Homo sapiens: one gene and its partners. The protein of the gene in region 2 interacts with the protein of the main gene of each other region in a biochemical or structural test. Each region holds a gene or a part of one and is shown on either strand. Other genes may lie near its edges.

Region 1 (3,747 bases), on a different chromosome or scaffold from region 2:
GCTAATGCTGGTCAGCTGTGAGGCATATTCAACCACCACCCCCCCTCCACCTTCCCCAAACCTGCTTCACATCATGGTCTGAACTAGTTTTTCAGATTAACTTTGGAATGCCCTTGGCTGAGAGGAAGGGTTAGTTCAGACAGTTGTGGGGGGGCTTATAATGTTATTTTTAGTTTACAGGTTCTTACAATTTACATAGAATTGTTCAATATTAATTCAACATAGGCTACTGTATGATAAGTTAAGGAGGAATATTGTAATACCTAGAGCAAACACACACACACACACACACACACACACACACACATGCAAACGAGGTGTAGCTAGGAAGCCAGTAGAGAAAAAAAAATTATCCCAAAAGAAAGCAGAAAAAGAGAAACAGAGAAACCAGCCAAAAAGATAGAACGAATAACAAGATAGTAAATGTAAACACAACCATCAATTACTATACTAAATGTGAATGGACTAGCTCCTTTGCCTTCCCTGGGGCTGGGAGTGCAGGATGGACTCACTTGCACAATTATGTCATGTTTGCTAGGGCTTGGGCTAGGGTTGTGGACTTAGCATACTTGCTGAGGCCAGTGCCCACCCCAAGTGGTTGCTGACAGCAGGGATAGGCTAAGGAGACACCTAAGTGGCTGGAGATTGGTTTTATATATATGGGAATGGAGCAGATAACTAAATACTTAGGCAGAGATGTAACCAGGCCATGTGACCTGAACTTTGCTCCAGGGCATTGACACTGCTGTTAAAATGCTTCTGGCCTAGAGGCCCTCTGCAGCCAGGGGAGGTAGATGGAGCTTCAGCCTGAAAACCCAGGTCAGAGGGCCCAAGTACCCTTTGCAGAGCTGGCTTTTCCCCTTGCAAATTGCTAGTGACGCTTCAGCTGATGTGTGTTACTATTAAGGTCCTAGTGTTTGGGAGGGTGGGGCAGGAGGTGGAGGATTGTCAGAAAAAAATTACATGGAAAAAGATGGCATCTGAGATGTTTTGAAAGATAAGTGGAATTTTCCAAGTGGAAAAAGGAAGGAAAATCAGTCAGATAGGAAGGCATGGAGCATTGGGGAATGACAAGTATCTTCTTGGACTAGGGTGGGAGATGGGCTGGAGAGATGGGTCAGGGCCAGTTGTCTGGCATCTTGTGTGTCTCAGAAGAGGGTGGGCACGCTGCGTAGGGAAGCCCAGGGCCACTCTGAAAGCCCTAAAGGGGAACTGATGCCTCTGGCCTTGTTTTTATCACCATCAGGACTACCCATTGAGGCAGGCTGCACTACCAGCTACTTCCTGGTGCCCTCTTGCTCATAGCCATAGTATTTTGCCTCTCTGAGCTTCCAGAGGTTTTAAGTCTGGGGAAGACCCAGGGACTCAAAGAAAGATTGGGGTGGGAGATAAGGGGCCACAGTTTGGGGGAGTCAGGCAGGAGGCCTTTGAGGAAAATAGATAAAGTCCCAAAGCCTGTGAGTGTGAATTTGGAGGCAATATGCTGTGTTCTGAAACGTTTTCAGACACTGGCTAGGTGCAAGCAAGTGTTTGTAGGGCGAGGCTCTTCATGGACCTATCACTGCTTACGCAAGCTTGGGATGTGGTCTTGCCCTCAACAGGTAGGTAGTCTACCGGAAAACCAAACTAAGGCAAGAAAAAAATTAGTGAATAATAAAGGACTGAACCGGTTCAGAGAAGGCATTCAGCAGATGTTTGCCAGTCAAATGAATTAAAGTGTGAATGAATGAAACTCGAGGTAGTGGGTGAATGTGTCCCAAGAATCCAGCGAAACAGGGTCTCCCAGGAGGCGGGACTGGAAGGGTCCGGAGAGGGGCCACAGGCTCCTGGCCTTTCTAAGCACACCAAGTGCCCAGTCGCGGACCCCCGGGACCAGGATGCGCTGACGACCCGGCTGGCAGGCGGGTCCTCGTGGGCGAGGCGAGGGAGGCGGCGAGAGAGGAGCAATAGTTTCCCACCGCTCCCTCTCAGGCGCAGGGTCTAGAGAAGCGCGAGGGGATCTAGAGAAGCCGGAGGGGAGGAAGCGCGAGTCCGCGGCCCGCCCCGTTGCGTCCCACCCACCGCGTCCCCTCCCCTCCCCTCCCGCTGCGGGAAAAGCGGCCGCGGGCGGCGGCGCCCACTGTGGGGCGGGCGGAGCGCCGCGGGAGGCGGACGAGATGCGAGCGCGGCCGCGGCCCCGGCCGCTCTGGGCGACTGTGCTGGCGCTGGGGGCGCTGGCGGGCGTTGGCGTAGGAGGTGAGTGAGGCTCCGGCTCGGCAGCGTCGCAGCTGCCCCAGGATCTGCGCCCCGGTCAAGTTGCGGACTTGGAGCCGGCAAACGCGGAGGGCTGGTCCCGCGCGTCTGCGCTGGGAATGCGCGTGTCCTGGCTGGCGCGGTCGGAGCCGGGAGCTGGGGACCTTCCTGGCCCGGCGGTGGCGGGGCTGAGAGGTGCCTGGTGCCTGGGAGCGGGTCCTCCGAGACGCCGAAGCCATCAGCCAGGCTGAGCGCCTTCCCGGCCGCCGCGGCGCGCACGGTGCGGTGGGCGCATCTCTGAGCCCCGCGCTCACCCGGGGCTGCGCGCGTCGCGGGTGGTCCTGGTCGGGCCAAGGACGACTGGCCCAGGAGCCAAGGCGAGGTGGGGCTTCCGGGGGTTGTTCCCGCGCCTTGGCAGAGGGATGCCGCTGTAGCTTCCTGGGTGAGAGCGTGCGCGCGCGCGGGTTTGCCAGTTTCCCCACATTTCCAATTTCTCCTGTTACGCTTTCTCCAGAAGGTTTTTTCTTTTCCTTTTTTCTTTCTTTCTTTCTTTTTTTTACCTTCAACTTGGCTTCCTGCGGGGTTGTTTTGGAGCAGGATGAGGGCTTTGCCTCCTCCAGTGTCCCCAGGTGGCAGCGGTGCCTCTGCTCCCAGGGCAGACCCTGCACCCGAAAAATCTCTAGTGTATTCGGGGAGCCATGAAAAGGCTCCCTTGGGCCGGTGGGATCCTTGGCTTTGTCTCTGGCTGCTGCGCACACCGTCAGCCGTCAGGGCAATTGGCATTCGGCCTCTTTGGTACTGGGGACACAGGTGGAGGGATGGAGCGGGCACAGCCCGGGGTTGCTGCCCGTGGTCCTCTCTGAGTCCTTGGTGATTTTGCCTGGGCTGGAGAGAAACCCTGGCTCCTGGTCTGCTGGGGCCGCCTCTGCCTCAGAGGATGACACAAGAGTGCATGTAAGTATTTTTAATAAAAACTGTAGTACTCGTAAAACAATCTACACCCTGCAGAAGGGATTTGTTATTTTATTTTATTATTTATTTATTTATTTATTTATTTTTGAGACGGAGTCTTGCTCTGTCGCCCAGGCTGGAGTGCAGTGGTGGGTTCTCGGCTCACTGCAACTTCTGCCTCCTGGGTTTAAGCGATTCTTCTGGCTCAGCCTCCCGAGTAGCTGGGATTACAGGCGCCTGCCACCACGGCCGGCTAATTTTTGTATTTTTAGTAGAGACGCGGTTTCACCATGTTGGCCAGGCTGGTCTGGAGCTCCTGGCCTCAAGTGATCCGCCCACCTCAGCCTCCCAAAGTGCTGGGAATACAGGCGTGAGCCACCGCACCTGGCCAGGATTTATTTTAAAAAGGGAAGATTTGTTGATAAATTCACTTCAAAGATAAACTATTCGAAAATACTTTAGTGATTCCCGTCAAGACTCTTCTGTGTATGTATAGACGTATAACTCATTCTGGACAGGGCAAGGATATCTTTTTTTGTTTGTTTGTTTGTTTTGAGATGGACT
Region 2 (3,747 bases):
GGGCTGGAGGAGGATGGCAAAGGCTACAGAGTTTGGAGGCAGTCCCACCATCTGCAGGGATGAGCACCGTCACCTTCTCAGAGACTCTCCGGGCACACTCTATGAGCTCCTTCTTGGTGTAGGCATCACTGGGGCTGCACTGCAGGGCGCCTGCCTTGGTGACCAGAGCGGCACAGCCATGGCCCAGCTCCTGTACCCGGTGTTTGATATGGGAACCTATCTGTGAGCCAAGGGAAAGACAGATGGATTTTACAAGGGGCACTCAGGGTACCTTCACTGTGCTTGGAAAAGTCACTAAGGACATAGAAAAAAACATGCATTGTAGACTAAAGAAGCAGAGAGAGAAGGTTCCCAGCACAAGGACGTTTCCGGTTGCATATCCTTTAGGCAGAAGGTCACCTCCTACACACAGAAAATAGTAGCACGCAGGCACTAAGTGGTGAGGATTGTGTTAAGCACAGTGGGGAGAAGGGGAGGAGCACTTTATGCTTGAATGTGGGAATCAGAGGGCCGTGGATTACCATGTGGCCTGTATGGGGTTATGGAGGGTTTTAAGGATGGGCATTACATGTGTCCTGCTAAGATCCAATTACTTGCTTTCTTGGAAAGCTAGAGGCTTAGGTAAGGAAGAGCTTCATGAGTTTGCAACAAGAAAGAACAAGAACATGGACTGGCAGCACAACAGAGAAGCAGCTGTAGGCCCAGATGAGGGTCGGCAGAAGCCAGAAAGGCAGGCCCGGGAAGGCTCCAGATTCTGAGCTGTTTCCTTTGTACCTGTGACTGAAGGCTTTGATCCTCTGTCCCTACCCAGAGCCTCACTAGTCTTCAGCAGAGTGGCCCTGAGGCTGTTCCCCTTTCTATGAAAGACCAGAGAGGGTGGGGGTGGGACAGCCCTAGACACTGACACATCAGGAACAAGGGGCAGGGGGCAGGGCAGAGTTGCCTCCACGTTTACCTCTTCATTTTCAGCAGCCACCGCTGCAGGCTTGGCCTCCGAGGCCAGACGGCCATAGTCACTGGTCAGCTGGTTAGCAAGAGGGCCCAGCTCCTCTGGGCTGGTGTTTGACTTGGTAACCTGGTGATAATGGAACGAGTGAAGTTATATCCAAAGTCAGCTCTCCGAGGGCAGTCCTCTGGGACTCGCCCAAACTCACCATCTCCTGAACGGTCACTGCAATGGCCTTGGCTGTCCGCACCATAGTTGTTTGGTAATCCACGAAGGAACCTTCTGGTTCACCCATTGGTCCTTCATCTAGCTGAGGGGGGAGGATAGGGAAAGGGAAAGACTGTTAGGGTCTCTGCCACTGTGCTTGGAGGCTCTGGCCCAGGGTAGCCTCAGTGTCCAAAGGCACCCCAAGACTCTAACCTGGTTGATGGCCTGGGTGATGGAGTCCACCATGCCACCCACGACCCCAGCAGCACTGGCTGCCTCGTTGAGGGTTGTTGTCAGGTCCTCTACGGCCTCGGTCATCATCTGCACAGCCTCCTCCAGGGCTTCCTGGGTGTGAGCTGCTTGCTGTGGGGAGAGGAGAGGAGCTCTGTTGTTCCTGTTTCTCCAGCCTCCTGCTAGTAACAGCTCCTCCCTCCCAACCCTCAATACCTTTGGGTTACCACCAGCCTCCTTGGCAGTGTATAGCAACTGCAGGGCAGACTCTGCCAATGTTTTAGTCTGGTCCAGGAGTGCCATCTGCTGCGGGTGGCTCAGGGTCTTGGAGGCAGCACCCACTGCAGCCAGGGTGAGCGGCTCAAAGTACTGCGCCATCTGGGACACCTGAGGCAAGGGGTTGGACTAGGGGTCAGGTCCCCTCTCTCTCACCCTACTCCCTGGGACTTCCCATGAGTCTCCATAGGTACCTTGTGTCCCAGCTGGGAGGCTTCAGCCCGGGCAGCATTGGCCAGCGGCTCAATGAGATGGGAGATCTCTTGGACTGCAGTGAGCATCTGAGTGTGCAAGGCCTGGGGAGGAAGTGGACATTAGCCCTGATGGTGACCTGCAATAGGACCCTCTGGCTACAAAGAACTGCTCTTCTGTCCATACCAAATACCCTAACCCTCCTTCGCACATCCCAGCCTTTGATGTCCCTAAGAAGCCACTCCTTGATCCCCCAGCTTCTTTGAGTCTGATATTTCTCTTCCTAGACACATCTTTCCATATAACCCTCTCCCTCTCACCTCTTGAGAGATTCCCTCACGGGGAGCAAGCTGCTGGCTGACTGCAGCGAGGGAAGCCTGGTCTAGGTCCCGTAGACAACTGTTCAGAGCTGCAATGGCCGTTTCACACTCCAGCTGCCCTGGAGCCTTGTCCCTGCAGACACATCATGGGCTCCAACACCAAGAACATCCCCTACTGCAAGGCCAGCCTATCCTTCCCCTGTATCCTCCCAACACCATCCCATCTCATTGCACTCAAGTGCCCATCCTCCATTCTGCCACAATGTATGCCCCCCAGCCACACTGGTTCCCCATCCCTCAATACCTCATGCTTGTAATTAGCTTCTTGATGGAGTCTGAGACAGTACGGGAGTGGCCGGCCAGCACCGACCAGCTCGGGGGGTCCCGGGGATTGACTGCGAGGGCCCGGGCTGTCTGGATGAGTCCCCCGGCACTCTCTAACATTGTCTTGGCAGAGATCACAATGGGCTCCATGGCAGCCCGACCCTGGGGAGAGGGGAGGCAGGAAGGTAAGTCTCAGGAGTCCCTGGAAGATGAGGTGATAAGCTGGCCCATCAGTTCCCCCTTCACATCGCCTCACCTCAGGGCTGATCTGGGCAGGAATGCTGGAGAACTCAGGGTTGGACGCAAAGGCACTCAGATTGTCCACAGCCTCCAGCAGAGGGGCTGTTGCTGCTCGGCACTGGGCACGGTTCTCCTCTGTGAAGGCCCCATCTAGCGCCTAGAAGTGACAGAGAGGCTCTCAGGACTTGGGATGCAGTCATAGGGGGTATAGGAAGTGAAGTCCAGGTCTCCTTCCTGGGACTTACAGGATTTGGGGAGAGGCTAGGTGGTCAGTCTGAATAGAAAGAGCTTGGGCTCAGGCAGAGGGGATTTGGTAGAAGGCTTCAGAGAATAACTGGGGGACTCGGGGGAGAAGATAGGACAGGTCAGGGAGAGGCTGGGAATTCAAGCAATGGGAACCTTGATGGTCTTGACAAGATTAGCTGTGCTGTTGGCCACCTCCTTGGCTGACTGTACAAACTGGCGCTTGGCAGTAGGATTGGTGGTACGGGCAGAAGCCAGGCGACAGCTGTTACACAGTGCAGAGGTGTGTTTAGCCACAATGGTGGCTGCAGAGAGCACCTGAGGAGACACATGGAAGAGCCACGATGAGGGCAGGAAGGAGGTGTACATACCCAAGGAGGAGCCATTTTAGGGTCAGGGGATGGAGAGCAATACCCTGAGGAGTCAAAACAGGAATAACAGAGTCACCTGAAAAGTCAAGATCTAGGAGACAGAGATACCCAAAGATGAACTGGGCATGGGAGAGGAAAGACATACTAATGGAGAAACCATAAGAGGGCATGTGGGAGAGTAAGCTCGAACATCTACAGAGAAGTTGTGAATTTAGCAGTAACTGATAAATGATGAGACCCATGGCAGAAAAAGACAGTTACCCAAAAAGAAGCTGTGTGTGCAAGGTCAGAGATGGGTCCCTGCCCTCTTTCCCACATGCCTCACCTCCCTCTACTCCACGGGGTCGGTCTGCCCTTTCCCAGACTCGCCTGTGGTCCCTGTTCCCTTGAGTTACCT
Region 3 (3,747 bases), on a different chromosome or scaffold from region 2:
TGCAAAACACCTAGCTGATAATTCAAAACAGTATGGGAGTCTAAGAGTCTGGCAGCTTCTTAACAAAGTTAAACATATGCTTACCATATGCTCCAAAATGCCATTTTTAGTATTTACCCAAGAGAAATGAAAGCTTATGTTCACACAAAAACATGTACACTATGGTAGAAAATTCCAAAGAATCTACAAAAAGGCTACTAGGAAAACTAAGATTAAAAAAAAAAAGTTTCACCTCCGGAGAAGTTGAACAAATTCAACACTTTATATTAATATCCTTTAACAAATTATCTTTCCCAGTATTCAAGCTTAAATCAAGCTCTAATTTTAAAATCATCAATCATCAAAAAACTCTTAATATGCACTTGGTGTCAGGCATCGTTCTAAGTGTCTTATATAAATCACTAAGCGTCTTATATAAATCACTGTATTTAATCTTCAAACTCTCCACTCAGAAAACTTAAAAGTGGAACTCTCTTTTCCTTATTTCTTATACAGTTAATTAGATAATATTTTAAGCTTTGAGAGATGAAAAATTTCCCAACTTGACCTAAAATATTCCAGCTGGAGGCTGTTTCTGGATGTTAGGCCTAAATAAGCAGAAACAAGACATACAAGATATGAAAAGAATGTCTGCAATCATCGCATTTCTACCTGGATTCTCCACAACATGAACCATGACCTCGTTGTTCCCATTCACTGAATACGTAAAATAGAACCAACAGTCGTCAACATCCTTCTCCTTACAATGGGACACAGGATCAGGTTGGACCGGCTGGGGTAATTTGTCCCGACTTTCTACCTTGGTAATGTTAAAATAGGAACATTCCTGTGTGCATGTGTCTTTCTTTTCTCCTTTATTGAAGGCTCTGCACTGAACACATTCTCTGTTACAAAAAACACAAATTATGATATTTACATTTTATTATTTCAGTAAATATTTGCTTAAACATATTTCCCATGCTAAACTCTTGTGACCAAATTGAACAAACAGCTATGAAGGAAGATTTCAATAAATGAAGAGGAACATTACATTTGTGGATAGAAAAATTATGTAAAAAGATGCTAATTTCCATAATAAAATTAAAGATTTATTACAGTTCAAATTAAAACCCTATTAAGAAATAAAAGATAGTAAAATAAATTAGCCCTATCACATATTAAATATGTAACATAAAATCATAATAATTTTTTTTTTGCGATGGAGTCTTGTTCTGTCATCCAGGCAGTGCAGTGGTGTGACCTTGGCTCACTGTAACCTCTGCCTCTCGGGTTCAAGCAAGCCTCAACCTCCCAAGTAGTTGAGATTACAGGCACACACCACCATATCTGGCTAATTTTTGTATTTTTAGTAGAGATGGGGTTTCACCACATTGGCCAGACTGGTCTCAAACTCCTGACCTTAAGTGATCCACCTGTCTCGGCCTTCCAAAGTGCTGGGATTACAGGTGTGAGCCACTGTGCTCGGCCAAAATCATAATAATTTAAATAATATGTTACTAGTATAATAATCCTTCAAGAGGAAAAATCTTTAATTTGGCTTAGTTTTGTCAAAAGACAGTAATTAAGAAATTGGTAATGACAAATTAAATTAAATTAAATCTTAATTGCCAAAATAAAGGTTACCATGTAAATTCAATTATCTAGCACATTCAGATCAAAATAATAGTACAACTCTCACATGACACACTTCATACCATGTAATATATACTAGCTGTTGAGAAAGAACTTTTAAGAATTAAAGAGTAGGCTTCCACATGGCAGGCATTTTATTTACAGTATATTTTAATATTGGCACTGTTCTGGTTCTAGAAACAATACAGGCTTAGGAGAGCCAAGAGGAAGTATCAACTATTTCAAGCAATTAGGAAATACTTACTTATGCTCAGCACAGACACCAAGGCAGGTCTGACACATCTCACACGTTTGCCCTTGAAACTTCGGATCTGTACACTTACAGACACCACACTCGCAGATGCCCCGGCCATTGCAGATCTGTCCGTTGCTGGCTTCACAAGTACTAGTATCCAAAGAACAGTCACATGCACTGCCAGTGTAGTTGGGGTTGCACTCACACACACGACACTTGCAAACACCATTTCCTGCAATTAAGCATATCATTTCTCAAAATGGTAAAAATATACAATCACAGTATTGACTGAAAAGTAAAATAAGCAACAACATGTGAGAAAGTATACCTAGGGGCGAGACTGACCCTCAAGCTACCCCTTTTCTACTTATGCACCAACTAAACTCAAGATTTTTCGTGGCATTAGATGGGATCACATCTTACAACCACTTCAGGCCCTTTACTTACCTCCACAAATTAAGCCATTGGATCTATCACAGTTGAAATTATCACACTCGCAGAATTTGCCAGAATAAATTTCATTTGTATTATCCCTCTTCCTACAAACACACTGTCCGCAGACGCACTCTCCATTGTTACTGCAGATTTCTGAACTGTTTTCTTTCCTGCAGTAAGCATCCATGTCTTCACTGTTAACTTCATCTGTGCTGCATTCACAATGTCTACCAACACGCCCTTCATTGCACCTGAAGAAACATGCCAAAATTGCAATCACACAAAACAAAAATAATTTAAGAGGTTCCAAGATGGCCAAACAGGAACAGCTCTAGTCTACAGCTCCCAGCGTGAGCGACACAGAAGACAGGTGGTTTCTGCATTTCCAACTGAGGTACTGGGTTCATCTCACTGGGGCTTGCTGGACAGTAGGTGCAGCCCATGGAGTGTGAGCCGAAGCAGGGCGGGGCATCGCCTCACCCGGGAAGCACAAGGGGTCAAGGAATTCCCTTTCCTAGCCAAGGGAAGCTGTGACAGACGGTACCTGGAAAATCAGGACACTCCCACACTAATACTGCGCTTTTCCAATGCTCTTAGAAAACGGAACACCAGAAGATTATATCCCGCGCCTGGCTCAGAGGGTCCCATGCCCAGCTCAGAGGGTCCCACACCCATGGAGCCTCGCTCACTGCTAGCACAGCAGTCTGAGATTGAACTGCAAGGCAGCAGGGAGGCCGAGGGAGGGGTATCCCCCATTGCTGAGGCTTGAGTAGGTAAACAAAGCAAAAAAAAGCTAAAACTGGGTGAAGCCCATTGCAGCTCAAGGAGGCCTGCCTGCCTCTGTAGACAACACCTCTGGGGGCAGGGCATAGCTGAACAAAATCCAGCAGAAACTTCTGCAGACTTAAACATCCGTGTCTGACAGCTTTGAAGAGAGTAGTGGTTCTCCCAGCACGGAGTCTGACATCTGAGAATGGACAGACTGCCTCCTCAAGTGGGTCCCTGAGCCCGAGTAGCCTAACTGGGAGACACCTCCTAGTAGGGGCTGACTGACACCTCATACAGCCCGGTGCCCCTCTGAGACGAAGCTTCCAGAGGAAGGATCAGGCAGCAACATTTGCCATTCTGCAATATTTGCTGTTCTGCAGCCTCCGCTGGTGATACTCAGGCAAACAGGGTCTGGAGTGGACCTCCAGCAAACTCCCAACAGACCTGCAGCTGAGGGTCCTGACTGTTAGAAGGAAAACTAACAAACAGAAAGGACATCCACACCAAAACCCCATCTGTACATCACCATCATGGAAGACCAAAGGTAGATAAAACCACAAAGATGGGGAGAAACCAGAGCAGAAAAGCTGAAAATTCTAAAATTTGAGCACCTCTTCTCCTCCAAAGAAATGCACCTCCTCACCAGCAACGGAACAAAGCCGGACGGAGAATGACTT

The links.
Region 1: the proteins of TLN1 (region 2) and ITGB3 form a complex in vitro, tested with the Homo sapiens proteins (6 studies listed by BioGRID and IntAct, with this or other methods).
Region 3: the proteins of TLN1 (region 2) and ITGB1 form a complex in vitro, tested with the Homo sapiens proteins (3 studies listed by BioGRID and IntAct, with this or other methods).

Annotation. Positions count from the first base shown.
Region 1 is NC_000017.11:47,251,706-47,255,452, forward strand, and holds the start of ITGB3 (integrin beta-3 precursor), read left to right. Parts: upstream 1-2,121; 5' UTR 2,122-2,156; coding exon 2,157-2,235; intron 2,236-3,747. UniProt on the Homo sapiens protein: Integrin alpha-V/beta-3 (ITGAV:ITGB3) is a receptor for cytotactin, fibronectin, laminin, matrix metalloproteinase-2, osteopontin, osteomodulin, prothrombin, thrombospondin, vitronectin and von Willebrand factor.
Region 2 is NC_000009.12:35,704,596-35,708,342, forward strand, and holds part of TLN1 (talin-1), read right to left. Parts: coding exon 3,746-3,747; intron 3,298-3,745; coding exon 3,136-3,297; intron 2,894-3,135; coding exon 2,753-2,893; intron 2,659-2,752; coding exon 2,477-2,658; intron 2,306-2,476; coding exon 2,173-2,305; intron 1,957-2,172; coding exon 1,855-1,956; intron 1,772-1,854; coding exon 1,601-1,771; intron 1,517-1,600; coding exon 1,367-1,516; intron 1,257-1,366; coding exon 1,155-1,256; intron 1,076-1,154; coding exon 956-1,075; intron 221-955; coding exon 74-220; intron 1-73. UniProt on the Homo sapiens protein: High molecular weight cytoskeletal protein concentrated at regions of cell-matrix and cell-cell contacts. Involved in connections of major cytoskeletal structures to the plasma membrane.
Region 3 is NC_000010.11:32,909,572-32,913,318, forward strand, and holds part of ITGB1 (integrin beta-1 isoform 1A precursor), read right to left. Parts: intron 2,554-3,747; coding exon 2,315-2,553; intron 2,100-2,314; coding exon 1,877-2,099; intron 885-1,876; coding exon 652-884; intron 1-651.